Regions from separate parts of the Homo sapiens genome. Here all the other regions are linked to region 2. Evidence: fine-mapped expression QTL. A gene starts in region 2. Each other region holds a variant in brackets. All regions are shown on one strand. Distances are from middle to middle.

Region 1 (4,068 bases), 260 kb before region 2:
GGGACTCATTCTGATTGTATACAATTTTAAATACATACTGATATTGGTCAGGCGCGGTGGCTTACACCTGTAATCCCAGCACTTTGGGAGGCTGAGGAGGGTGAATTGCTTGAGCCCAGGAGTTTGAGACCAGCCTGGGCAAGATAGTCAGAGACCGTCTCCACAAAAAATAGAAAAATTAGCCAGGTGTGGTGGCGAGTGCCTGTAGTGCCAGCTACACGGGAAGCTGAGGTAGGAGAATCACCTGAGCCTGGGAGGTTGAGGCTGCAGCGGGCTGTGATCAACTCATTGCCTGGGCGACAGTGAGACCCTGTCTTGGGAAAAAAAAAAGATCACAAATATGCAGATTACATACAGAAGCCACTCTATTTCTGGCCTTAAATTCCTTCCCTCCCCTAGAAGTAGCCACTGTTAATATGTTGGGTAAACTTCCAGTCCTATTTGCAAGCATTTGTATAGATGTATGGATATGAATACTTAAAATTTTTTTCATATAAATGAGATCATATGTCTATTGTTCCACAGCTTGCTTTTTGTTGTTGATAATAAAAATTTTATTTCAGGTCAATCCAAACAGAAAAACAAAAAGGTCTGTCCATAAATGTTTTCAGGTTTCTTCAGGGAGAAAAATGAAAGTGTGTTCTAAGAGAAATATCATTTTCTCTTTCAGTTTATAGGCTATTTGGGTCAATACTTATTTTCAGGAATTTTAGTTTATAATTTTTTTATTTTTAATTATTTTGGATACAAAATAGTTGTACATATTCATGGGGTATAGCTTCAAAGCCTTATTTATGTATATGTATAATAATATATTTTGTTCTTTTAAAAGCTGCATTATAGTCCATAAAGAGAATGGGAATGTACTAGACTTAATCTAGCAAACTACTACTAGATAAGCAGGGTGCTTGCAAGATAAATTATGATAAATGCTGTAAATATTTCTTTTTTTCTTTTTTAGAGACAAAAAATGTTTGCCCAACAAATGTTTGCTCTATGATGCCCAGGCTCGTCTGGAACTCCTGGGCTCAAGTGATCCTCCCACCCTGGCCTTCAGAGTAGCTATGACTACAGGTGCACACCACCACACCTGGCCACACATGTCTTTGAAGAACAATCTCTATGCACATAAGTATTTCTTAAGGTCACATTCCTAGAAATGCAATTGGCGTGTCAAAAGATATGTGCACTTTTTTAAGTTTTATTGTTTCACAGTTTATCCATGTTGTAGCATTTATTGGTACTTTGTTCCTTTTTATGGCTGAAGAATATTCTACTGTGTGGCCATACCACATTTGCTTGTCCATTTATCAATTCTTGGACCTTTGGGGTTCTTCCACACTTTATTATGAATAATCTTGCTATAAACATTTGTGCGCAAGACTCTGTGTGTGGTTGTATGTTTTCATTTCTCTTGGGTAAATACTTAGGAGCGGAATTGCTGGGTCATATGATAAATCTGTTTAACTCCTTAAGAAACTGTCAAACTTTTCCAAAGTACCTATGCCATTACATTTTCACCAGCAATAAAACAAGGGATTCAAGTTTTCCACATCCTAGTCAACACTTGTATTTGTATATCGTTTTTGTTATATCCATTCTAGAGCATGTGAAAATATGTTTTTAAATTGGCTTTACTAATTTGCACTTCCCCTGATGTTGTATATATAATACATGCTTCTCTACATCCTCACCAACCATAGCTATTATCAGTCTTTTAAATATTTGCCTTGTGAATATTTGTATAAAGTTACTTCGTTGTTGGTTTAGTTTGCATTTTCCTGATAGTAGTGAGTGAGCATCTCTTCATATGTTGATCGACAATTTGTATTCCATCTTCTGTGAATTACCTGTTCATATATATATAT[A/T]TTTTTACTGGATTAACATTTACAGACATTCTGTATGTAATCCAGGTATTGCTGTATATGTAATATGCCTTAGTCTGTGACACTTAACCTTTCTTACATCTTTCTTGTACAAAAGCATTTAATTTTCACTAGTTAAATCTGTCAGTTTTCTTCATTATAGATTTTGGGCTAAATGTTATGCTTAGGAAAGCCTCCTCCAACACTAGGATTATAGAAATATTCCCTTATAATTTCTTCTAATAATTCTACAGTTTTATTTTTATGCTGAACACTAATAAACTTGGAAATGATTCTTATGTAGAGGAATATATATTTGTTTCGTTCCAGTTGCCCCAAAACTTTTCACTGAATTGTTTACCCTTTCCTAACTGATCTGAAATAAAATCCCACCTCAATCATTGTAAATTTTGACACGCAAGTCAGTCATTTTCTGGACTTTTTATGCCACTCCATTGAACAATTTGTCTTCTCTGAGACAATATTGGGCCAGTTAAATTACTGTTGCTTGAAGGTGTGTTTCGGTATCTGGTCTGGTAAATTCCCTTTCATAACTCTTATCTGTAAAGAAAATATCGCAACTAATCTTTCTAAGTGTAATGGAAATATTTCTGGTTTAATAAGATCTCATAAGAAAAATAAGGTAGAACCACATAAAGGGTTGAAATGGAAAAACAAGGATGAGTTCACATTCTTTAGCTCTGTCATTACTACAGGTGCAAGGACACTTTTGTCCACTAGCAACTCTCTTGTGCACCTCTAGTGCCAGATCATCTCTGTTTCTACTCTTCATCAAAAAAGAAACCAGGACTTCTTGAAAGGCACACAGTCCTATGTCTTGCGTCAGAAAAAAAAAAAAAAAAAAAAATTAGGATGGCCCCAAACATCCTATTGTTGTAACAAAGTAAGGATGCTGCCATAACTGTCAAAAGCAATATTTTACTTTTAAAAAAACCAAAACCCCACAAAAACAAAAGAATAAGCTTGAAGGACTTCCACCAGTCAAGCTGTAATATTCTGAGCATCCAAAAAAGGAGATGAAAATTATAAGGTGAGTCTATAAAGGGACACACATTCATAGAGACTCCAAGAGAAAAAGGAGTTGTAATACAAAATTAAGATGATTATAGGATATAGCTAAGGGACTATTCATATATGTGTGGACATTTTATATGTTGTATGAAGAATATACATTTTCATAAACCATAGACATGTGTTTGTTTCTAGCTATCCTTATAGGAATAAACAAAATCATAAGATAAACTAGAAAAACATAGTACAAACAGACAAAAGAAGCCAGGCGCAGTTGCACATACCTGTCATCCCAGCATTTTGGGAGGCTGAGGAAGGAGGATCACTTGAGGCCAGGAGTTCAAGACCAGCCTGAGCTGTAACATAGTGAGACCCTGTCTCTACAAAAAAAAATAAAAAAAAAATGAGCCAGACATGGTGGTGCATGCCTGTAGTCCCAGTTATTTGGGAGGCTGAGGTGGAAGGATTGCTTGAGCCTGGGAGGTCAAGGCTGCAGTGAGCCAAGATCGCGTCACTGCACTCCAGCCTGGATAACAGAATTCTGAGACTCTGTCTCAAAAAAACAAAATAAAATCGTCATCAGTGGTCACATATAATAAATACAAATAAAGGAGTCTACTTGATCATATGTGATCACAAATAAAAGAGGATCCAGCAGTTATGTCCAAAGATAATAAATAGCCAAATATCTCAGGGACAAGCGTTCACCACACAGACTTGATGGTTCTACTAGACAAAATCTCAAAATGATCCTAGTTACATGAGATATTCACAGGCATATGTAAGTTTTCGATTACACTAACGGACAAGATCAACAGATCATAAAAAGGCAAGACAATGAGTAGGTCAGGCTGACTATGCAAAATGAAAGCATCCACTTCTGGGAAGGACACCAAGTTTCCTAAATGAAAGAAGAAATGGCAAGATATTAAAAATTCCATGACAAAGCAAGGAAGAATTAATTTTAACGAAGGACTTTGTCCAGGGCCCATGGCCCATGACTGCAGCAGCGTGGACTGTGCTGCCAGGCCCTCCATCCTAAGAATCAGTCAAGAACCCAGATCTTGCTCCTTCAGTTAGCCTGAGGGGGGATTTCTTTCCTTTTAGTCTTGGTAAAATTACTGCAAGCCCAGAAAGGACAGTATAACAGAATATGTAGGAGAATATAAAA
Region 2 (4,068 bases):
ACCACCCATGGCTTTGCTCCTGCCAAGTGGACACTAAACATGGATGTGGCCCCATTTTGTGTTATTGGTTCTATTTGAATTCACATGCTTGCCTTGAGTCCCTGAGTCCCATGTGCAACTAAAACAGAAAGATAAAATCAAAGTAACCCTTTGTTCTTGCGGCTGTCTTCAGTAATATAAGGTGGGTCTGCATTGCTCAACAGAAAGTCTTCCGGTTCATTAAAACTGTACATCATTGGTACCATAAATATCCAACAAATATCAACTTGGCCATGAATTCTAATCAGCTACCTATAATACTACCAAAAATATCTTAATCTGGATGTGGCTATACACTGAAAATTTTGGTTTTTGCTGGTTGGTTATGGGCTTTGGTTTAGTGGTGCTAGAAAAAAACATAGCAGTTTTTGCTGTGACAGAGGATATGGTAAAACTCTCTGTCCAATTTCAGAATGCAGACGACAGACCCAAGCTTCAGTCATTTCATATAAACCTGCAGGGTGTCAAATGAAACTATTTTTTAAATGATGTTTTAACCCTATCTTTGCTGGTTGGCTGTGTTCTTGCTAAGGAGGCTTCTTAGATTCTGTGAAGCAAGCCAGACCAAAAAATAATTTGTTAAACGGATGTGGAAAAATGATTTAAAAAATCAGAATACTTTAGTGATGGATCCCCAAAGACTTCTCAGTTTTTTAAGTCTGGTCCTAAGCTACTTGGCTAGGAAATGACCAAAAATGGTCAAGAGATATCTTTGGAGTGTACCTTTTAGAAAACCTTTCCTCTACACTGCATCTGCAAACTGGGATTACCGGGAACTTTGAAATAATTGTACAGCTCCATCTAATCAGAATACTCAACAATTAAAATTCACTGATGCCAAAAATGGAAAGAAAATAAGTAAATAACTCTTAAGAGCAGTGGCACCATTTTTTTTAAATAACTTCCTCCTCCTGCCTTCAACTCTCAGAAGATTATCACAAAAACATCCATATTATGAATAGTTTTATAGGTCAGTTCCCTTCCGTACCACTAGGCATACACTGATGATCATTTCCAAATTTTTCCAGACTGCTTTGATATCATGTGATTCATTTTAAGTAGAGGCAGTTTTGTGAATTCCCTAGCCAAACTTTTTAGATTGTGGATTTTCATATAAATAAATTGACAGACCGGTGGGGGTGGAGGGGGAAATAGAAAAAGGAAAAAAATGTTTTTGTAAACTATCTTACTCCTAATCTGTTATTGAGTGAGCCATTTTTGGCTCTAAGGCACCCTAGCCCGTTAATTCAAGGTTACCTTCGGTCATTGCCATGGCTCCAGTGCTTATTATCATTGCCTCATCCACATCTTTTGAGAACACTCTGAGAATCTACACGGCTTTAACACACTTCTTCGCACTAGTGAGAACGCCCGCAATGCCTTATTCAGTAAGGTTAAATGAGTTTGTTTGCTGAAACATTCGCCACATGATCCCAACGCTCCTCCAGCTCCATCCCGTCTATAATCGCAGAGCGAACACTCACTCACCTTGGGCGTGTCAATAATTGATGGTCTGGGGATGGAAGCGTGAAACACCACTGCTTCACAGTCCGCCCCATCATCCAGGGACCCGGGCACATCTTCAGGCGTCTCCGCGGGCTGGGCCGCAGTGCGGTGACTTGAATTCCGATTCGCACTGCCATTTCTCTCTGCATGGGTGCTCGAATCTTGCCTTTTCTCTGGAGCTCCTTCTGCGCTTGGGTGTCTTGGCTGTCTGCCTGCTTTGGCCACAGGCTGCACACGGACGGTGGAATGAGTATCAGCCACGCCGGACTGATTGAAGGAAGCACTCTCCCTCGTATTCCCAAAACAGGCGAGCAGAGCTGAGCACGGAAATGGATGCATGCTTCTAGAGGGAGACTTCAGTCTTTTGGTGAGTCTTGCTTTCCACGTGGACATGACTTGCAGTGAATCATTGCAAAGTTCAAACGGGGCAAGGAAATTTTCCAGGGGTCCACATCACCTCCACTTTGCTTATAGGAACTCTTTCCAATTGCCCGAAGAGAAGAACTTGCTAGTGGTTGCCCCTAAATAGAAGTTGGGATGGCAAGGCCACCTTCCCTGAGAGTCACTTAGCCGCTGGGGCCCCTTTGAAAGTGTCCATCCTGGGCAATTTCGCGCTCTTCCTTCTGTGATGCTGTCAGTGGCTAAAGAAAGCTGTTGGGGAGGCATGTGAGTGGCTCCGGTTACAGTTCCTAGGCAGGGCAGACGCTTCAGGGTAGGGTAGTGCCAAGTCAATAGACAATTGCTTCAGGTTACCTAGGAGGCATAAAGATAATGTAGCCTGATAGCATCTGCCATAATAGCGTCAGCCTGCGTATCAATAACATCATAACAGCAGCAAAACCTTCTTTGGTTACCCCCCTTCAAATATTTATTCCCCCAAACAAAACAAAAACGACCCAGTTGTCCATCACAAATGAAGACCCCTAGAAGGGCCACGACCCTAGCAGCTGTTTCATTATTAAAATAGGAGGTAGACTCAATCTTTCGCCTGGAGAGATGCGGTGTGATGTGTTTTCTGAATCTTTCTGGACTTTTCGGGATCTTTCCGGAATCTTCCCGGAATCTTCCCCCCACCCTCAAAACAAGTTTCCTGGTTTCAGGATCCACATTGCCTTTTCTGATAACTATAAATAGGTCTTTGGTAATTTGATTTTTTTTTTTTTACTAGCTAGGCTAAGTTCTTGATTAGTTTTCAACAATACCAAAAAGAAAAAAGAGAGCCCTACATTAACAATTATCCTTATGTATTATGTTATTATGTGTGGAGGTATTATGTACATGTGAAGTATTCTACCTATATGGTATATATCACCTACTTTCAGAAAGTAACTCCTTTTTGAACATAGATCTTCTGTTTCTCAACACATTAATATGTGAATGGTGAAAAATAATAAATTATAAACATATTCTAAGACAATTCAGAATCAAGATTTTTCCTTAGCCAACTGTCTGCTAGGAATGTTATAGAAATGTAATACTGTAATGCTTTTACCGTTAATAGTGATTTTAGGGTCAAGATTTCTGGGCATGTTACCCACTCTTAATTAATTTGTTTGCTCTCTCTTTTAATTTAATGTCAAGATGTGCTCTTTGGCCCAGACAGGTGGTAGTTATTATATTATGGCACTGATTCCCGTTTTACAGAGGCAGAAACCAATTCTTTGAAATTTCATGTGACTAAGGCAAGTTTATGCCACTAAGAAGGGCTTGTTGGGTGCCCGAGATCCCTGTTCTCCTATCTGTCCTCTGAGTCTCATTCTATCTAACAATCATTTTATAGATGTAATGGCCATACGGGAAATATTGTTCTAAATGGACAGTCATATTCATAATACAAAAAGGCAGATATGGCTTTAGAATGAGTGGATATGGCATCAAATGCACATTTTATTTTAGTCTCTACTGAAAGTTAGAATATAGAAAGCTTCCATTTATTTAGAGGTTACCGTGTGGCAGGCCCCGTGCTATCCAAGCTGTTTCTGGCTTCCCAGGGTTGTGAGCTCATTCTTTTTTCATTGTGTCCCAAGTGCAAGCTGTCCAAATTCCCCACCCATAAGAAATCAGGGGGTTCAGGTTTCTACCAGGGTCCCCCCTCCCAGATATTCCTGGAGACCCCTCGGAACTGCACTTTGTCTCCCATTTGACTTGGTTGCTACAGTCCACTCGGGTCGGGTCGTGCCATGCTGTGCCCCTCCAAGCACACGTATAGTAAATCGGGGCTGTGATGCTGCATAAGACATTTTTGAAGGCTTGGAGGTAACAGGAAGGGATTTAAGAAAAGAAAAATGCACTCTTACACCTGGTTTCATTCACTCATTCATATATTCATTCAATTATGTGTCAAGCCCCTTTTGGAACAGAGAGTCAGCAGTTCACAGTGCAGCTTGCGAGCGGCCACATTCAGGAGACCGCTGAGGAAGAAAGCTCAGAGCCACTTTCTAGGTCTGCGGAGGCCCTGGGCTTGCATCCGGGCTCTGAGGACCACCTCTCCTCGCTCAGTGGGTGTGCTCAGAGGCACGCATG
Region 3 (4,068 bases), 220 kb before region 2:
AATAATATTATCTAACAAAAGCAGACTTACAAAGACATCTATTATTTTAATTAAGTAGTGATGACATTATGAACTTGGAATCATACTCCCACTGACATAATTTAATGCCTGATTATAAAACAAACTATTCTAAACATTTTACTTCTGTCTTTAATCTAGTTTTATTTTGCTCACTCTCATTTTTTTAAATAAGTTGTTCCCACGCCATTAGCAAGAAATAAATTTTGTTTTCTCTTAAAATGTTCACTTCTGAGATAAAGATTTGATTCAGTGACTTGGAAAAATTGGGCATTATTTGTTTCCTCACTGCATCTGCTGCAGAACCATTTTCTCCACAATTAAACATCATGGCTTTATCAAAGAACACAGGTCTAAACGTCAGAAACGCCAGGCCCAGTCCTTGCTCTGCCACCCAGGAGGCTCTGTGCCTTCAGAAGGCAAGTTTACCCCTCAGCATCAAAGTATTCTCACCTGAGCCCTGGCCTAGGCAATCAGAGGTCCTCACTAATCAGGACAGGCCAGTGCTAAACTTGCAGACATCTTTAACACACACACACACACACACACACACACACACTGGGCAGTGCAATCAGGCCACACGTGACAGGCCTTTCAAATCCACACACCCCACCCCCAAAAGGGGAAACAGGAGAAATCTGATTTTACCTGGCTGCAAGTGCAATGCAGAATAACAACGTGAGCCCTAGGACACCTCTGATCCATAGGAATCCACATTAAAGCTGCACTGCTGCCTGGGGCCCTCAGGACTGGCAGGTGACGAAGCAGAGAGAGAAGACAGACCAAGCACATTCCCTTCTCAATACTCGATATACAAAAACAGCACTATTTGACTAACAATGACTAGCTTAAAGTGACTTTCCAGAGCCCTCGTCCTTCCTGTCATCAGAACCGACTGACTGGAAGGCCAGTAATTTGATATCGGAAATTTACAATTGATAAAGTCATCAATGGTGACTCCTCCCAAATGCACAGAAGATCTAGAAATGCTGACCTCAGAGTTTCTGGACTGTTCAGGGCTTGACCAGGATTCTCTGGCTGAAAAAGGAAATACACCAGTCAGCACTCAGCATGCCAGAGAGCAGCCCAGGCCACAATATTCATATTTGTCAAGCCCCGACCTAACGAGAGCTCAGCTCTGGACAAAACAAAGCCGTGCGCAACGTTTAGACTTGACTGACACCTACTGTGTGCTCCGTGCTACTGCCCCTCACTTGAGATCTCCCTGGTCCATCTAGGCCACAAGCCACACCTGGCTTCACAAGGCATCCTGCCATGGAACAGCAGGCAAAGATTTAGAAGGCCACCTCAGCAAGTGCCACTTCTCAAAGATACCCAGATAGTTTTGTGGCTAAAACAAATATAGCACCCAGGTTTTCGTTATTGAATAGAAAAAGTTCAAAGCAGGAAACGTGCACTAAGAATGGACTTTCCCCCCATGGGATTGTCAGGGCCTCTCAATAGCTTCTCCAATGCCCTGGCAGCGGCCCTCACTCCCCACCTGATCTGACCTGGGCCTGCTTCTCATGCCTCATGCCAGTCTCTCCGCCACCTTGCTCCCTGCGCCTTAGCCACACAGGCCTGCCTTCATTCCTGGAACACACCAAACTCTTTCTGGGCTGCATGTCTTGGTGCACATGATGTCCCCACCTGGAGCGCATGACCCTCCCAAGCCAGCCCCCTTCCCACACTTCTCCTGACCCCTGGCTCTTCCTCACCTTCTCAGTCTGTATTTCAACATCACCTTCTCGGATCAACAATCCAACACGGGTCCCTCCGTGGTCAGTCTCTGTCCTAAGCTTGTTTCCCAACTCTCACCATCTGTAATTGTTTAATTTATTGCCAGCCCCATGTGTGTTTTT[T/G]ATCTTCTCCCCTCTAGATATTTAGCTACCTAGGGGCCAGGGCCATTTCTGGTTTGTACCTCGCTGGATCTTCAAGGCTAGGAATTCTAAATGTTCAATTATCATCTGTTAAAGTGATGAAATACCTCAATAAATTGTGCATGGAGAAAAGATGCAGTCTATAAACATTTTTATTTGTACTAAACTGGTCACAGTGCGAAAACAGCTGTTCACTGGTATTGGGCATAATTATTAATTTCTAGCCTCTATTTCTCCCTACTAAGTACCCAACCAGGTTGGGTCTGTGCTCTACTGTAATGTCTTGATTAAAATGGGATTCTTTGTCATTTAACTGTTTAAAACTGGTAATAGAAATTATATCAATGATGATGGTTTGGTTCCCAGGTAATCCACAAAAATATGACTGCTACTACTGGTTAACATTCGAAGTGCTTACTGCATCCCAGGCACTGCTTTAAACACTCTCATATTTCATCTCAACCTTCACAACAGTTCTGCGAGGGAGGTATTATTATCCTTATTGACGGAGGAGTAGCTGAGGCCCAGGGGGATTAGCAGCCTGCCCATGGTGATGCCATTGGAGGGGCCTAGCCGGGGCCTAGCCAGGACCCAGCCAGGTCCCAGCCAGGTCTACCTGATGCCAGAGTGCCAGCTCTTACTCGATAGTTCATCCCTTGCTAATGGAGCCCACAGGCTAGGAGGCAGGAGAGATGAGGTAAAGCTGTCTCTTCCTGATTTGGAGTCAGGCAAACTACTGTTTAAAATGTTTTTAGAAAAAGATCGAATTCGTCTTTTGAGCTCCTCCCCGTGAGTCCAGGTAATTCCTTAATTCCTCAAGCTTGCCCTCCCTGTTCCTCAGTTTCCTCCTGCTTCCCTGGACTACTCCATTAAATGCACCGCCAGACTTGGGCATTCATGACACAACCCATCATCACCTGCCTCCCCACCAGTGTGTGTGTGCACACACTCACGTGCACGTGCTCACATTCACACACATGTGCATGCGCACACTCACATACGTGCACGCGCACAGTCACACATACGTGCACGCACACACACACATACACGCACACACGCACACACACTCTTTCAAAAGCTCCAATTTGCTCCCTCTAGCTTTCAGAAGACTCAGGGTAAACAAGATACCTAATTAAATTATTTCACCCTGAGGTGTAAAATAATTCCTTGACCTTCCTATAGATGCTAAAATGCATAACTTTTAAAAGGTAACTTATTCACAAAGCACCGTTTGAATTATTATACAGCCAAAAGAATGACCAAAATTGGATGGCAATTTCCAGAAGCATCCAGAAAGAGAGTTGTGTGGAGAAGCCATCTGGCTACTGCTCACCTGATCTTGATTTTTTTTTTTAACTGTATTCCTTCTCCATTTCTGAACTCAGCGTCTAAGGTGATCCTGACTGTGCCTCTGGTGAACGCAGGAAGGACTGGAAAACTGGGGTTGGGTGGGGAGTTGAGCAGGGGCCTTGCTAAGTGTGTGGAGCTGGAGACCACCTATAGTTTCTGGCTGGATTTTATAAAACACAACACCTTAATATGTTCTGCCAGGTGTAGTGAAAATGTGCCTGATGAACTTGAATTCTTACTTGCTTCCAAAAGCTCTATATGAAGGGGAGCCCAAATTAGGAGATGAAAACGCAGGAGAAAAAAAAACTAATAATAAATTTCAACTGCTGAGTTGTGTGGGTCCAACAAAGAGTAACAGAATTATACATCCTTCAAAGCCACGCTGGTTTTGTTGATTTCCATGTGAACCAACTGGCCTAAGCTGACCTCCATTTCCCTTCCAACGCAGTCCAGCTGTGGCTTTCAACCACGGCTCACACATCAAAATCACCTGTGGAACTTCAAAAAAAAAAAAAAAAAACAAAAAAAAAACACCTGGTGTCTAGCTCCAGCACAGGGAGCAGAGAAGAGAATCGATCAAGATCAGCCACAAGTACAACACGGCCTGTGCCACAACACAGCCATGTCCAGAGGGCAGGACGGGGAGAACTGCAAGAACCATTTGGTGGACCATCTCTTCTCCCCCACCTCCAGGACCAAGCGCGTGAGCCAGCCACCCACCTGCGCAGCCAGCCTTCATGAGCCCAGCTTTGCCAGCACCGAGGTCTGAGTACCAGGGACAAGGTGATAAATGGTCCTGGCAGACCTGCCAAAGAGCTTC
Region 4 (4,068 bases), 160 kb before region 2:
AAGGGGCTTGCACTTGAAGGTGGAGCAGGGGGGCCTTACTGGTTTTAATCCCTGGAGAGGATACATGTCTCTCAAACTTGCAACAGGAAGTGAGGGAGAGCCTGGGTCTTGCTCACAAGGAGTCAAGCCACTCAGGAGACACTGTCTTTTCAAAAATGGTCTAAACTGAATATGATTTAACATAAAATTGTACATTCTGGCATCTGAAGCTTAAGATATCCTAATTTCACAATTGATGGCTGCTTAGAAGTGATGAAACACGTAAGTGGCTATCTGTGTTTGAGCAGAGACAAAAGTAAAACTGTGTGCTCAGAGCTTCAACACATGTAAAGCAAGAGCAAGCTGTCCTGGTAGGGAAGAAAGGACACTGCTGCATCTAGGAAGGTGCTGTCCGGTCAGGAGTAAAGAATAAACAACTAGAGACAGTTTCAGGTAGACGCCAAAAAAAAAAAAAAAAAAAGGCCTGAGACAGGCCCATGACCCAGAGTTTGGTGCCTAATTACCATGGTGGCGCATGCCTGTTTTCCCAGCTACTTGGGAGGCTGAGACAGGCGAATTGCTTGAAGCTGGGAGGTGGGGTTTACAGGCGTGAAGCACCAAACCCAGCTTCTTGAAGTGAAATTTATATACAGTAAGATTTACTCTTTTTAGTCTACAGATCTATTAATTTTGACTCATGTAATACAGTTGTGTAACCACCTCCACAATTATCATAGGGAATATTTCACCACCTAAAAAAGTTGACTCATGTCCCCTTGTGGTGAGTTCCCTCCTCCCCACCCACAGTCTCTGCAATTTTTGCTCCATAGTTCTCCCTTTTCCAGAATGCAACATGAAGGGTATTATACAGTTCAGTCTCCTTCAGGGCTGCTTTCACTTCACAAGACGCTTTTGAGATTTCTCTATGTTCTTGGGTGTATCAGTAATTCGTTCTTTTTATTTCCAAGTGGTATTCCATTGTATTGTTTATCTCAGTTTATCCATTTACAGTTGATGAACTTGGCTTGTTTGCAGTTTGGGGTGACTATGAATAAAGCCGTTATAAACATCTCACACAGGTCTGTGTGAGAACATATGTCATATGTTTTCATTTCTCTTGGGTAAAAACCTAGGAGTGGGACTGTCGGGTTGTATGGTATTATGGGTTGGATTCTGTCCCTTGCCCCCACGCCCCCCAAAAAGATGTTGAGGCCTAATCTCCAGTCTTCGAATGTGACCTTATTTGGAAATAAGTCATTACGGGCCGGGCTTGGTGGCTCATGCCTGTAATCCCAGCACTTTGGGAGGCCAAGGCAGGTGGATCACTTGAGGTCAGCAGTTCAAGACCAGCCTGGCCAACATAGCGAAATCCCGTGTCTACTAAAAATACAAACATTAGCCAGGCATGGTGGTGTGAACCTGTTATCCCAGCTACACAGGAAGTTGAGGCAGGAGAGTCGCTTGAACCCGGGAGACAGAGGTTGCAGTGAGCCGAGATGATGCCATTGGGTACCAGCCTGGGCGACAGAGTGAGACTGCTTAAAAAAAAAATAGTCACTGCAGATGATGTAATTAAGATGAGGTCATATTGGAGTACGGTGGCCCTTAATCTGACTGGTAAGTATCCTCATAAGAGGAGACGAGACACAGAAACAGACACGCAGGAAGAAGATGGTCTTGTGACAACAGGGGCAGAGATTGGAGTGATGTATCAATAAGCTAAAGGGTGCCAAGGATTGCCAGCAAGTACCAGAGGTTAGAAGACATGAGGAAGGAAACTCTCCTATAACCTTCAGAGGGAGCTTCAGAGGGATTTAGAGGGAGCACCGCCTGTAGATCCCTTCATCCAACACTTGTAGCCACCAGAAGTGCGAGAAATAAATTGCTGTTGTTTTAAGCCACTCACTTTGCGATACTTTGTTACAGCAACCCTAGGAAAATAAGGCAGTACGGTCAGTCGGTGTACATTTCACTTAATGGGCACTTTTTCCCAAAGTGCCCATATTGACGTTCCCACCAGCAATGCATGAGAGTCCTGGTTGTTCTATGATCCATCAGCAGTCGACACTAGCAGTGTTTTTCATTTTAGCCA[T/C]TCTAATAGGTGAAGAGTGGTTTTAATTTTTATTTTTCTAATGGCTTATTATGTTGAGCACCTTTTCATGTGCTATTTGTCATCCATATATCTTCCTTAGCGAAGCTTCTGTTCCAGTCTTTTATCCAGTTTTTATTGGTTGTGTGTATTTTCTTAATAAGTTGTAAGAGTTCTTTTACAGGCATGTGTTTTCTAAATATTTCCTCCCCATCTATGACTTCTCTTTTTATTTCCTTAACAATGTATTTTGAAGAAGAAAAAACTTTAAATTTGAAGGCTTATTTATCCATGCCTTCTTTTACGATTTGTGTTTGTGTCCTAGCTAAAAAAAAAAAAAAAAAAAAAAACCTTTGCCCAAGCTAAGCACACAATTACATTCTCTTATGTTTTCTTTTAGAAGTTTTATAGTTTTTGCTCTTACATTTAGGTCTATGACGTATTTCAAATTAATATTTTCATATGGTGCTAGGCAATGGTGTAAAGGTTGAATTTCTTTTTTTTTCATTAGTATACAGATGTTCCATTGTTTGCTTTTTGAAAGGACTATGTCTTATACATTGATGAACTTGGTAGCTTTGTTGCAAATCAGTTGACCGTGTAAGTGTCTATCTACGTCTGGACTTTCTTTCTTTCTTTTTTTTTTTTTTTTTTTTTGAGATGGAGTCTCGCTCTGTCGCCAGGCTGGAGTGCAGTGGCACAATCTCGGCTCACTGAAACCTCCGCTCCCAGGTTCAAGCCATTCTCCTGCCTCAGCCTCCTGGGTAGCTGGGACTACAGGCGCGTGCCACCATGCCCAGCTAATTTTTGTATTTTTAGTAGAGACGGGGTTTCACCATGTTGGCCAGGATGGTCTCGATGTCTCGACCTCGTGATCCGCCCACCTTGGCCTCCCAAAGTGCTGGGATTACAGGCATGAGCCACCGCGCTTGGCCTATTTCTGGATTTTCTATCCTGTTCCATGTCTCTGTATATCTAACCTTTCATCAACACCACCCTTTCTTATTTGTATTACTTTACAGTAACTCTAAAATTCAGGTTTTGTGAGTCATCTAACTTTGTTGTTCTCCAAAATTATTTTGGTTGTACTAGGCCCTTTGCTTTCATATACATTTTAGAATAACGCTGATTTTTTTCAAAATGCTTACTGTATTTTTTTTATTATTATAATTTAAGTTCTGGGATACATGTGCAGAACATGCAGGTTTCTTACATAGGTATACACGTGCCATATTGGTTTGCTGCACCCATCAACCCGTCAACTACATTAGGTATTTCTCCTAATGCTATCCCTCTCCCAGCCCGCCATCCCCCCACAGGCCCTGGTGTGTGATGTTCCCCTCCCTGTGTCCATGTGTTCTTATTGTTCAACTCCCACTTATGAGTGAGAACATGCCGCATTTAACTGATGTCTTAATATATAGTCTTCTGACACATGAACATAGTATATCTCTCCATTTATTTAGGTCTTGTTCGATTTCCTTATCAATGTTTTGTACTTTCCAGCATACAAACCTTACATACATTTTGTTAAAGTAATCCCTAAGTATTTCTTGGTTTTGATGTTATTGTAAATTATACATTTTTAGAATTTCAATTTCCAATTATTTATTGCTTGTATTTAAAAATACAGTTGATTCCCACAGATTGACCTTGTATCTTATGAACTTGACAAACTCACATATTATATTTCTTAGTCATTTTTTAAATAGTTCTTTGGGATTTTTAATGTAGATAATCATGACTTTTGCAATAAAGACCATTTTATTTCTTAGGTTCTCTGTTTTTTTAAATTTGGCATTCTTTTCAGGGAATTTCAGGGAAGAGGCATGTCCACAGCCAGTGAGGAGAGTGAGATTTGGTTTCACATTTCGATGTTTTGAAAGCAACATTAAACTGCTGTTTATATTATGTAGACTCCTTTCTTACTTTTTCTGTTTAACAGAAAAATTCTGTGGCCCTGTTATTTGTGTTCTGTGACTGACTCCTACTGCAGACTC
Region 5 (4,068 bases), 39 kb before region 2:
CACCTGCGTTTTCAAAATAAAACAGCCCAGAGTCGATCTAATGTATCTGATTCAATTTTTCATCAACGGAGATCACATTTTACTTCAATTTTGTCAGCATCATGCAAAGATCACTGAGATCTTTTGTTAACAAAATGCCACCAAGTTTCATACAAACCTGACTAAAATGATGTTAAGTAGAAATGATATCCAGTAAGATACGCTTGTTTTACCCATGATGATAAACTAGTTCCTAAATGAAGGGTAGAGTGACACCAGTCTGTCTGTCTCAACCAGGAAATTATACTGTCAAATGATATATCATGGGGCTTTTAAATATTAGAATAAATACCCATAGCACTGGAGAAAGGTCGTCCAAAATAATGATAAGGTAAACTGTGGTTAATTCAGCTCCTATTGTCTAACTTATTTCTCTCACAACCCTGGGAGGCAGGTTTTATCATTTCCATTTAACAAGGAGAAATTGGCAGCTCAAAGAGACTATGCAACTTGCCCAAGATGAAACAGTGAGTAAATAGCCAAGACTCAAGTCCAACTCTGTCTGATTCCAGACCCCATCTTCTTCTCAGCAAACCACACTGCTTCTCCACATTTTCTCCCTGAACAGGTTTTTCATTTGGCCATATTAACTGCATAAACCCTTTGGAAGTATTTTCAACAAATGTCCTTGAAAAGAGTTTCTGGGCACCTGGTATTTAGAGAGGACTTTGAGAGGAGAACAGGTACCGAAGCAACGTGTTCAACTCTTGAGCCACTGAATTAATACATGGGCTGCCAAACACACCTACATAAACTTGGGACTAGATTTGTTCAAGCTTGCACATTTGGACTTCCTTTAAAAAAAAATATATACAACTTCTTGTTCTGAAAACAATGCCAATCAATTTGTAATGAGATTACAATGTTACGATAACAAGGGTAATAAATGTCCTGCCACACATTGAATCAAAGATCCATTGCATCATGGCTTAATAAGCCACTGGGGGAAAATTGCCTGGTTTCCATGATAATGAGTGGTGCTCTCATCCACACCAGAACTGTCCCGCACCAACTGCAGCCCAATTATATTGCCCTTACATTGGCCCATCCTGACCTATAGGGAGTTGGAAGCATTTACTAAATCAAGCTTGTCCAACCTGCAGCCCACAGACCACATGTGGTCCAGGGCGGCTTTGAAGGTGGCACAACACAAATTCATAAACTTTCCTAAACATAATGAAATCTTTTTGTGAGGTTTTTTTTTTTTTTTTAGCTCATCAGCTATCGTTAGTGTTAGTGTATTTTATGTGTGGCCCAAGATAATTCCTTTTCTTCTAATGTGGCCCGGGGAAGCCAAAAGATTGGACACCTTTGAATTGTACCAGTGATTACTAAGAATGAGCAGGACCTGTGCTCCAGAACTTAGGGCACACCTCCATTGCTCAAGCGGAGTGACAATTTGGGTCTATAAATGTTCCACTGATCCTGGCATTACTTTACAGCTTTGTGCTTTTATTTATTTATTTATTGAGATGGAGTCTTGCTCAGTCACCCAGGCTGGAGTGCAGTGGCGCGATCTTGGCTCACTGAGCTTTGTGCTTTTAAATAGTTCATTTGTCAAGTACCTTGGTAGTGAAATGCAGTGGACACAGTTGTATAAATCCCCTGAAGAAAACAAATTGATATACGCAATCTCCTCCCCTGGCACATAGAGGCCCATCTGTTCCAGCCGAATCTGCCAAGTCAGCAGAGTGAGTCTCGAGCCAGCCTGCATCAGCTGCCACACTTGCAGGTGTCCAGCAAGATGTCATCCACCTGCTGTCTCCAGGCTTCTCTTGCAAAA[C/G]TAGGTCATAATTCGGTGTCCATTCTGAGGTCCTGTCCATTCCAGCGGATAAAATAAGCAGAATTTATTCCTCAAGAGCCAACGGCCTTTTGTGATAGGATAGATCAAGCATGTCCAACCCATGGCCTATAGGCCACATGGGGCCTGGGACAGCTTTCAAGGCAGCCCAACACAAATTCATAAACTTTCTTAAAACATTATGAGATTTTTTGCAATTTTTTTTTTTAGCCCATCAGCTATCATTCATGTTAGTGAATCTTATGTGTGGCCCAAGACAATTCTTCTCTCAATGTGGCCCCAGGAAGCCAAAAGATTGGACACCTGTGGTAGATACTCATCTGTTGGAGCTATTTTGGGGTGGGCCTTTGCTGAAAGTCAATTGGTGGCCTCCAAGATGATTCCTCAGGATGTCTGTCTGCCCAGTAGAGGAGACGGCACTTCGGTTTCAGGTCCATTTTGGTGAAATGCATCATTAACAGATAAGCAAGAACATTTAGGACAAAAGATAGCGTGCTTTAGAATGACTCTAGGAAAAATTCTCCAATTGCAAGGGGATAAAGCATTGGCCTGCACTGTTCAGGAAGAATGGGAAAACTCCTTTTCATAGAATTTAAAGCAGAAGAGTAGCTGGAGTTCTGCCAGTCCTCTCTGAGCCAGGGCATACACTGGAAAGCCTTTCATAGTCAACTCCCAGGGATCTGCGATTGTCCAGCTTTACTGAGTGGGGTCTACACTCCGTCTCTAGGAAATGTAGCCATGGTCACACCTAAGATTTGGGGTTAGCATGACTACATTTCCTAGTGACATTACTATATCTCTACAGTACTAAAATGTCCCAAAGGGCTATTATGTATCTATTATGTTTTATTATTACAAGAAACCTAAGAGGAAGGTAGGGAATGATTATAGGTTAAATGCAATAAAATATCATGAGAGATTTTATGTATGGTGCCTGGGAAAAGGGAAAAGGGAAAAGAAGAGGGGGAGCGAGCAGATAACAAAGATGGAAGTCCTAAAAGATGGCAGTCCCCCTGTGTGGCAAAGTCTCTAAAACAGCATGTACCTCCAGAATATATTATGGTAGCCAGCCTTAAACTGGACAAGCTGAAAGGGAACTGAGAGATCTCCAGTTTGTTCTCTAGTTTTCAAGACACAAGTCCATAGACAGGAAGTCATTAGGTCAAAGTCACAAGTCAGGAGACAGGCAGAGCTGAAGAAAAACACAGGTAGAATCCAAAATTCATATTCTACTGGGTTGCTTATGAAAGTTAAAAGACACAATATGTTAACATCAACTTGTCAGCCTATTTATAGCAGACCTCTGGTGATTTGAGTAGTTCGCCTCAATCTAAGGGACAAGCCAAACTGTTTGGGATGGCTTTCTTATAGACTCATAATTAAGACTCTATCCTTAGTGTACTCTTCAGCCTATTGCACTAAAGTGAATACTACTTTATGTAAGAACAGTAAGTCCATTACCAAAAAATAAAAACAAGAAAAACACATTATCACTCAATCTCCTTCATTGGTCCTATAAATCAATGCTATTTTCTGAGTCCAAGATCCATGAAAAACCTTCACTAAGTATAAACATCATAAATCATTAACTGATCATTTCCAAAAAGTGACTTTAACTCTGGCCAGGGGTAAATATTCCTGGGATTTATGTCCAATCACAAGCAAGCAGTATTATTTCAGCACATTCGACAGTAGAATTTTGAAAGGGTCATCTAAAAATAGATTCTCAATGACTGCAATGTGAAATCATGCAAACAGAACAGCAGTTGAATGTTGTGGTTTAGAGCTGCAGAGAGACCCACTGAAGCCTTGATAATGTTGTCCCCCAGCACTCAGATAGGAAGCCGACACCAGGCGGCCTTGTTGGCAGTCTGGGGAAAGGCCACACAGCAGACCTCACTGCCTGAGGAAGGCGGGGAGTATGAAGGCTTGAGAGCCCAGAGACAGACAAGGAAAAGGGAAGGAGAAATGAAGGAAGCAAAAACAAGGGAGCTAAGAGGATTTCTCGGAGCACCACCAAGCCAGAGATCTTGTCAGCGCTCTGAGAAAAAGCAGAGAGATTCCATTCATCTCTGCCTTACAGTGGGCTCTTTTGTTAGGCTTGTAGGGCTTCTCTTTTATTCATATATTACAGAGGGGGAGTTGGGATGATATGGGGAGAAAAAGGAGGTGAGAGAGAAAGAGAGGAGTGGAGAGGGGAGAAGAAGGGAAAAAAGCATTTCCTCTCC
Region 6 (4,068 bases), 78 kb before region 2:
CTGGGTTCAAGCGATTCTCCTGCCTCAGCCTCCCGAGTAGCTGGGATTACAGGCATGCGCCACTATGCCCGGCTAATTTTGTATTTTTAGTAGAGATAGAGTTTCTCCATGTTGGTCAGGGCTGGCCTCGAACTCCTGACCTCAGGTGATCTGCCTGCCTCAGCCTCCCAAAGTGCTGGGATTACAGGCGCGGGACACCGTGTTTTGAATTTTTGATAATTGCCATCTTAATGGATGTGAGGTGAAATTTCATAGTGGTTTTCATTTGCATTTTCCTGATGACTAATGACACTGAGCACCTTTGCATATTAATGTTGGCCATTTCTTTGGAGAAATGTCTGTTCAGGTCTTTTGACCATTTTTTAAATCAGGTTATTTATTTTTCTTTTATTGAGTTTTATGAGATCTTTATAAATTGTAGATATTAGCCCCTTATCAGAGATATATTTTGTATATTTTTCCCAATGTATAGGTTGCTGTTTCACTACGATGATGGTTTTCTTTGCTGTGTAGAAGCTTTTTAGTTTGATATAGTCCCGTTTATTTATTTTCAATCTTATGGCCTAAGTTTTTGGTGTGATATGCAAAACGTCATTACCAAGGCCAATGTCTAGGAGCTTTCCCCCGGTTTCCCTTTTCAGGAATTTTACAGTTCCAGGTCTTATGTTTAGGTCTTTTGTCCCTTTTGAGTTGATTTTTGTGTACATTGTACGATAAGGGTACAATTTCATTTTCTTGCATGTGGAAATCCAGTTTTTCCAGCTCCATTTACTGAAGAGACCCTCCTTTCCCCATGTGTTCTCTTGATGCCTTTTTTGAAAATTAGTTGACCATATGTGTTTGGATTTATATCTGGGCTCTCTATTCTGTTCTACTGCTCTGTGTGTCTATGTTTATGCCATTACCATGCTGTTTAATTACATAGCTTTATAATACAATTTCATATCAGGAAGTGTTATGCCTCCAGTTCTTTCTGAAGACAGCTTTGGCTATTTGGGTTCATTTGTGTTTCCATATGAATTTTAGAATTTTTTTCCTATTTTTGTGAAGAATGCCACTGGGATTTTGATAGGGATTGCACTGAATCTGTATGTTCCTTTGGGTAGTAGGGACATTTTAACACCATTAATTCTTCCAATCCATGAGCAGGAGAGATTTTTCTATGTATTTTTATCTTCAATTTATTTCACTAATGTTTTATAGTTTTCAGTGTACAAATCTTTCACCTTGTTGGTTAAGATTATTCCTAAGTACTTTCTTGATGTTATCATAGAAAAGATTGTTTTCTTAATTTATTTTTTAGCTAGGTTGTTATTTATAGAAATGCTACTGGTTTTTGTGTGTTGATTTTGTATCCTTCAACTTTACTGAATTCACTTACTAGTTTTAACAGTTTGTTTGTGTGTGGAATCTTTGGGGTTTTCTACATATGGGCTCATATCATGTGCAAATAGAGATAATTTCACTTTTCTCTTCTAATTCGGATGCCTTTTCTTTCTTCTTCTTCTGTGATTGCTCTTGCTGGTACTTCCAGTACCGTGTCAAATAGAAGA[A/G]GTGAGAGTGGGCATCCTTAACTTGTACCATATCTTAGTGAAAAACCTTTCAGTTGTTCCCCATTTATTATAACATTAGCTGTGGGTTTTTCCTAGATGGCCTTCACTGTTTTGAGGAACTTTCATTCTGTACCTAAACTGTTCAGAGTTTATATCAAGAAAGAATGTTGAGCATTGCTGAATGCTTTTTCTGCATCAACTGAGGTAACCATGTGGCCATGTGGCTTTTAATCTCGCATTCTGTTAATGTGATGTATTACATGGATTGATTTGCATATGTTAAAACCAGGCTTGCATGCTAGGAATAAATCCCACTTGGTCATGATGTAAAATCTTTTTGATGTATTCTTGGATTCTATTTGCTAATATTTTATTGAGGATTTTTGCATCAGTATTCATCAGAGATACTGACCTGTAGTTTTCTTGTAATGTCTTTGCCTGGCTTAGGTACCAAGCATCCTGGCCTCATAAGATGTGTTTGGAAGTATTCTCTCTAGCTCTATTTTTTCGGGGGAGGTGGTGGGGGGTAAAGAACTTAAGAAGTATTGGTATAAATTCTTCCTTAAATGTTTGGCAGGATTCAGTCATGAAATCATCTGGTCCTGGGATTTTCTTTGTTGGGAGGTTTCGATTACTTCTTCAGTGTTTGCAGTGTGTTTACAGTAACAAAATATCCATCGATCTCCGTCCCTTGTTAACAAATCTCAGAAAGGTGTCTATCTCAAACTCAGCAGATGCTTCTGAATGTGGATTGTGCCTGTCTACTCAATCTGACTTTGCAGAGAAGGGTGGGATGAGGGAGCAGACCCCGAGGTCCCGTAGGCTGTGCCCAGGGACACTGTGGTTCAATTTCAGTGATTTGCTCCTTTAGCATCTCTGAAAAGTGTCAAAGGTCTGCTCCTCTCTGTTCTGTTTACTGTGGCCCTGAATCAACTGTGTCCCCAACCCCCACTACTACGCAACCAGGCCTAACAACTTTATTCAGATGATGTCTGATACATTGACAGTCTAGAGAGAGAGAAAAAAAATGGGGAGGCACAGGGAGAAAGGTCATTAGAGTGCACGCTTTTTGGCTCAAAGCTTGGATGGGGAGCCAGTTCTGTGCTTGGGGCTCTGGCTGAGGCTATGGAGTGCAAGGACGTAAAAATCTCAGCCCCTTAAAGAGGAGCTGGAAAGGGCTGCCACATTGCCTCTGCCGCTTCATCAGCTCATAGCCAACTCTTCTTTCGTCCTCTCCTCCTCTCCTGAGACCCCCCAACCCAGCCTTCTCCCAACTTAACCAGGTCCCCGAAATGGAGGCAGAACAGTTCCTTCAGATTTTCCATGGCCTGGAATCCGGAATCATTTTCAGAGCAAGTACCACGTGTTTTTGAAATAATGCAGGGCTCTGCATTTATGTAATTGGAAAGTTTGCCGTGCTAGCCCAGGAATTAATTGTAGGCCAAATTCAAATTTGGCTGCAAACAATGTGTAAACTACTGTGTTCCAGAATCTGTTTTTCTTCCTCTTACGATAGCCTTGAAGGAACAGAGATGAGAGAAATAGAAATAGACATTTTCTAAAGACTTTACCTCTAGGACAAATACAAAGGTGTTCTTGAAAGCTATTTTATTCCTCTGCAAAATGCATTCATTGCCTAGTGCTCAGACCTATACAGCTGCTGTCTCCTCGTGCACATGGAGTTCCTGACATCAGTCTCGAAGGGACTCTACCTAGACTGTTTCTACAATGTTGTACCTTTATTGCTGTGAGGCCACTTGCCACATGGTGACCCAGCCCCAACTCAACTTTTGTTCTTGAAATACAGATACCAAGGGCTGGGCATGGTGGCTCAGGCCTGTAATCTCAGCACTTTTGGAGGCCAAGGCAGGTGGATAACTTGAGATCAGGAGTTTGAGGCCAGCCTGGCCAACATGGCAAAACCCCATCTCTATTAAAAATACAAAAATTAGCTGGGCTAGGTGGCACGTGCCTGTAGTCCCAGCTACTCAGGAGGCTGACGCACAAGGATCGATTGAACCCAGGAGGTGGAGGTTGCAATGAGCCGAGATCATGCCATTTCACTCCAGCCTGGGCAACAGAGCAAGACTCCATCTCAAAAAAAAAAAAGAAGAAATATCAACACCAAGATTTAAAATAATGTATGCTCAGAGTAATTTTTACATGCATGAAAACAAATCATTCATGCAGTAGTACTCCTAAGCCAACTTAAATCATTGTGGTTTTGCTAGAAGAGAGGTCTAAATCTACTGAGGTCCATTCCTGTGTCTTTCTAATTCTGTGATCAAAGGCCCAACTGAAAGAGTGATTTGAGCAAAAGGAGAAAGAAGTGATACTGGCAGGGGTGAACAAAGTTCTGCTAATCCGGGAGGATTCTCTGAATATCTGTGTCCTGGAGACTTTTGGAAACCATTTGCAAACTTTTAAACTTAATCTTCTCCAAATATTTACTGTTTATGCTTAATATGTGCATTGCACATCATCATTTGATGATCACATTTCATGTATATTATCT
Region 7 (4,068 bases), 230 kb before region 2:
CAGGTGTTCAACTTCCTCATTATGACAGATGAGGAAACTGAGGCCCAGAGAGATGAAATGACTAAGTTAAGAGAGTGGCAAAGACATTCTGGACCACACAGTGGCAAAGCTCGGACTAGGACCAAGATTGGAGTCTGGTCCACTCTTCACTACCCAACACTGCCTCTCACTTCTGACTGCTTTGCAAATTTTCTAAATTGACTGTCCACATTTTCTACTGATCTGTGGGTGTTTTGGCACCGTGAGTAACACCACCATTAACATTACCTCTGGATCAGTAACTGGATGGCATCTTTGAAGACTAATATGTTTCAACTGTAAGTACACTTTAATAACAGCTCGACAGTTTTATCTGCTTCTATAGCTGATCACGTTTTAAGATAGTACAGTCGTCATGATGATTTTTAAAGCTTCTCAAGCTAGGCGAAAACTACCCATCTGCCTTTTTTAAAATTTGCATTATTACCATTGAGCAGCTACAATGTTTAAAAACCAGTGACTGCTCAGACACGGTTATTTAGACATCCTCTAAGTCCCTACTTCCCACTGCATCTTGCTCCATTAAAACCTATTCCTCAAGCATCAGCATTCAGAATGAAATTAAGTAAGTTGGTGAACAAATTAAATTCAACCCTACCGACCTTCAAAGTAAAGACCAGTCTAATTGACAACCTGACCCCCATATTCCCATCAGAACATAATGAATGCTCAAAAACGGACACAGATGGGCCCACATTACTACCACAAAAATAACCAGATGCCCCCTTTTCTCACCAACATGTATGATTGCAAATTCTTTACTGCATGGCCACTCTAACTCTACTTTAATCTCCTACCTCCTAGATAAAAGTTGTTGGATACCCAATCACTGAATTGTTTCTGCCTCCTGGCCACATCCAACCCAGATCTGGTCCCATTTCCCTAATTCCACCTTCAAATCACCCAGTCCAACAACAACCCCAAGTCTGCCTTTCCAAAATAGTCCCAGGGTTCTTCTGGGTACACTGGCCCCGGCAGAAGCAAGCTAAACGAAGCCAACTTCTGTATAACTACACGTTGTGTTCCTGGTGGGTTTTGGCTGATGAGATTCGACACTGTTGTCTGAAGTCACTAGTAACGTATGGCAGAGTAGAAAGAACCTTAAATAAAAGGTCCACAAACCTAAATCCTGACTTCACTTCTCTGGGTTTGTTTCCTTACTGGTAAAATGACAGCCAGTCATTCTATCATTTTGTAAGTTTTTCATCTCAAATCTCCGTATATTGGCCAAATTGTGGGTCAAACAGGTTTGTTTCTACAGAAGAATATGTTCTAACTTCCAACCACTCACTCACTACAGGTTGAGCATCCCTTATCCGAAACACCAGAAGTGTTTCAGATTTCAAAGCTTTTCCAATTTTAGCATATTTGGAATATTTCTGAGTATCTACACTCTGAAATGCTCCGGTGAGCATTTCCTTTAAGCAGCATGTCAGTGCTCAAAAAATTTTGAATTTTAGAGCATTTCAGATTTCAGATTTGGGATGTTCAGCCTGTATTTCACTTTTGAAATACTGAATTAGTTAAGGGTTTGTCTGGAAAACTTCATTTTTCACTCTTAAAAAGAAAAAAGAGACCTTAATGCCAGAAACAACGGTAACAATGATGTGTTTTTTCTGTAGGCTTAAAATGTTCCATAATTAAAAGAATTTAAGTTGGCTCTTATTTGATTTCTGCTTCCGCAATGAAAACTGAGCGTGAGGACAGGGACACATCTCTGTCTGGGTCTTTGGAGGATTGTCTGTCTCTAACCAAACCCTAGAGAACAGCTATTTCCATGGCCCCGGCCCTTTTAATTAAAGTCTGTTTTCCCACTTCCCTCTCTTCAG[A/G]CCACCTGGTGGGCTTTCTGTGAACAACCAATACGCAGGCTTCGCAGGGAGGACACCAAAAACAAGAAAGGAGTAAAGCAACAGCTGTCAGCAAGACCAGGACCCACAGCGCTCGCTGGTTGAGTTAACCTGGTTGGCTGAACCAGTTACTATGTCTCCTACGGGGGAGCACAGGGTGGGCCTGAAGATCGAGAGGGGAGCAAGACGTGGTCCAGGAGCTCCCTGCCTGGAGGAGAAGAGAGCAGACGCGACAGACGCACCCGAGGGTCAACAACTGGGAACACGGACACCCTGGGGGTCCAGGGGGAGGCACAGGGAGGCCTCAGGGACCAGATGCTCTTCCGACTGCACCTCCTGCCAGCTCCAGGGGAGGTACTTGTGCCCTTGTACACAGGTCTGTGAGGGTGCGTGGGGCGTAGGTAACAGCACCTGGCTGCAAGTAGCTGGAAGCGCAGGGCTCCTCTGCAGTTCACACGAGAATGCTGGAGTTGGCCCAGGGCTGCTTCATCGCTTGGAGGTGGCAGGAGGAACCTGGGCTCTTCTCCTAGCCCTGCCTCAGCTGCCCCAGATACACATGGGAAGAAGGGAAGGCAGAGACAGCCCCTGAGGAGGGCTCTCTCCAGCTGCGAAGGCAGGCACTCCCAGAAGCCCCCGGGGGCCTTCCTCCATCGCCTCATTGGCCAGAACAGTGTCACATGACCACTCTAGCCGCAAAACGTGCCAGAAAAATGCAAATTGGCATCCAGCAGGGAAGAGGGGATGGCAACGGCTGTCAGGTGGACAATCAACCCTCCTCTACAAGTACACATGCACACGCACACACACGCACACACACACCGACTGAATGCTGAGTCCCCCCAAAATTCCTATGTTGAAGCCCTAACCCCCAAAGTGACAGTATTTGGAGGTGGGACCTTTGAAAGGTAATTAGGTTTAGATGAGGTCATGAGGCTGCAGCCCACATGATGGGATCAGTGTCCTTATAAGAAGAGGAAAAGAGACCAGAGCTCCTTCTTTCTCAATCTCTCTCCCTGTACTCTCCAGCCTCAATGCCATGTGAGGACACAATGAGAAGACGGCTGTCTGCAAGCCAGGAACCCAATCTGCTGGCACCTTGATCTAGGACTTCTAGCCTCCACAAGTGTGAGGAAACCAACATCTATTGTTTAAGCCACCCAGTCTGTGGCATCTGTTATGGCAGCCTAAAGAGACTAAGACACATACAAGAGTCAACTGCCTTCAAAGGCAGGCCATCCTCCTGACAAGGGGCTTGCGAGGCCCCTCAGTTAACTACTCTGGATCCCAGCTCCAAGCTGAAAGGGAAACAAGAGCAATCGGAGTTTCTTAGAAGTGCTGAGTACTCGCAGCATCTATAATAAAAGCTGCAATAAGCAATAAAGATGAGAGAAGTTTAGGCCTTTTGGCCTCAGCTTTTCCATTTATGTGAAGCCTCCCTTTTAAACTAAGGGGGCTTTGGCAAAAGTTTAAATGTAAACACATTTGTAGTGAGTGTGGGTACTGGAATAAGGGAGTAAACTACACTGCCTCTGAACTTTCCCTGATTCAACTCTGCACATTAATTCAACTCCCTCTGGAGGCTTGTGGTTCCAGGACGCCAAGCCTTGCCATTTTCCCACAGGCTGCCCTGTAGAGTCACGAGTAAACAAAAGCAGGGCAACCCCAGCTCCATGAGACCGTTCATTCACCACCGACAGTGATCTCAGTCACCCCATCACAGCACACCCAAACCCAGAAACTCGAAGTGATCTCCCCACAGGACTCAGCTGAAGCCTTTCACTATCTGTATGGACAGTAACAGACACAGGAAAACTTAAAAGCTGAATGGGAAAATGACCGCATCCTGCAAGTGAGCATCCTACTTGGCAAACAAGGAACACAGAATGATGAAAGCCTAAAAACAAAGAGCTCACTGGTAAATACCCAGACATCGGGTGCCACATGTCTATAGAGCATAACAACCGTTTTTCTTACGGGAATGGAAAGGAGGCTGTTTTAGAAAATATTCAACATTTCAAAAATTCATCTAATTCTGGAGTTAAAAGAGGCCTTCGAGAAATACCACTTCATTTTAGTGATGAGGAACAGAGACATCAGTCATAATCCAGATCCTATAGAAGTGAAGTGATCCGATTTATCTTGACTCCAACAGGATGCTTTTAAGGATCATTTAGGACTACTG

Direction of the effects. Positions count from the first base shown, and alleles are read on the strand shown. Sizes are in standard deviations (SD) of each study's normalised expression. Not every link is listed here.
As copies of A replace G in region 7, the expression in spinal cord of the gene that starts at base 2,172 in region 2 goes up (moderate effect, 0.54 SD a copy in GTEx).

Evidence for each region. PIP is the estimated chance that this variant, and not a neighbour inherited with it, causes the effect. A credible set is the group of variants that fine-mapping cannot tell apart.
Region 1: its variant is the best candidate, but not a certain one, in a credible set for the expression of FAM107B in blood mononuclear cells (TOPMed, PIP 0.78).
Region 3: its variant is the best candidate, but not a certain one, in a credible set for the expression of FAM107B in whole blood (INTERVAL, PIP 0.66).
Region 4: its variant is the best candidate, but not a certain one, in a credible set for the expression of FAM107B in tibial nerve (GTEx, PIP 0.79).
Region 5: its variant is the best candidate, but not a certain one, in a credible set for the expression of FAM107B in coronary artery (GTEx, PIP 0.84).
Region 6: its variant is the best candidate, but not a certain one, in a credible set for the expression of FAM107B in macrophages after interferon gamma (Alasoo 2018, PIP 0.74).
Region 7: its variant is the best candidate, but not a certain one, in a credible set for the expression of FAM107B in spinal cord (GTEx, PIP 0.63).

Annotation. Positions count from the first base shown.
Region 1 is chr10:14,509,489-14,513,556 of GRCh38, forward strand. No RefSeq gene overlaps it. Among named protein-coding and RNA genes, the nearest start is that of MIR1265, 75 kb to the left of the region's middle. The variant A/T (reference allele first, on the strand shown) is at 1,869.
Region 2 is chr10:14,772,726-14,776,793 of GRCh38, forward strand. It overlaps FAM107B (family with sequence similarity 107 member B), which reads right to left and starts at 2,172. Exons shown (of 5, transcript NM_031453.4): 1 at 1,528-2,172. The coding sequence starts at 1,938.
Region 3 is chr10:14,555,350-14,559,417 of GRCh38, forward strand. The region is part of intron 2 of FAM107B (family with sequence similarity 107 member B); the gene reads right to left. Among named protein-coding and RNA genes, the nearest start is that of MIR1265, 120 kb to the left of the region's middle. RefSeq lists enhancers at 42-761, 996-1,055, 3,411-4,068 and a silencer at 3,481-3,775. The variant T/G (reference allele first, on the strand shown) is at 1,881.
Region 4 is chr10:14,617,314-14,621,381 of GRCh38, forward strand. All of the region lies in intron 2 of FAM107B (family with sequence similarity 107 member B), which reads right to left. Among named protein-coding and RNA genes, the nearest start is that of FAM107B, 160 kb to the right of the region's middle. The variant T/C (reference allele first, on the strand shown) is at 2,072.
Region 5 is chr10:14,733,255-14,737,322 of GRCh38, forward strand. The region is part of intron 1 of FAM107B (family with sequence similarity 107 member B); the gene reads right to left. Among named protein-coding and RNA genes, the nearest start is that of FAM107B, 40 kb to the right of the region's middle. The variant C/G (reference allele first, on the strand shown) is at 1,823.
Region 6 is chr10:14,694,475-14,698,542 of GRCh38, forward strand. All of the region lies in intron 1 of FAM107B (family with sequence similarity 107 member B), which reads right to left. Among named protein-coding and RNA genes, the nearest start is that of FAM107B, 78 kb to the right of the region's middle. The variant A/G (reference allele first, on the strand shown) is at 1,554.
Region 7 is chr10:14,546,143-14,550,210 of GRCh38, forward strand. The region is part of intron 2 of FAM107B (family with sequence similarity 107 member B); the gene reads right to left. Among named protein-coding and RNA genes, the nearest start is that of MIR1265, 110 kb to the left of the region's middle. The variant A/G (reference allele first, on the strand shown) is at 1,869.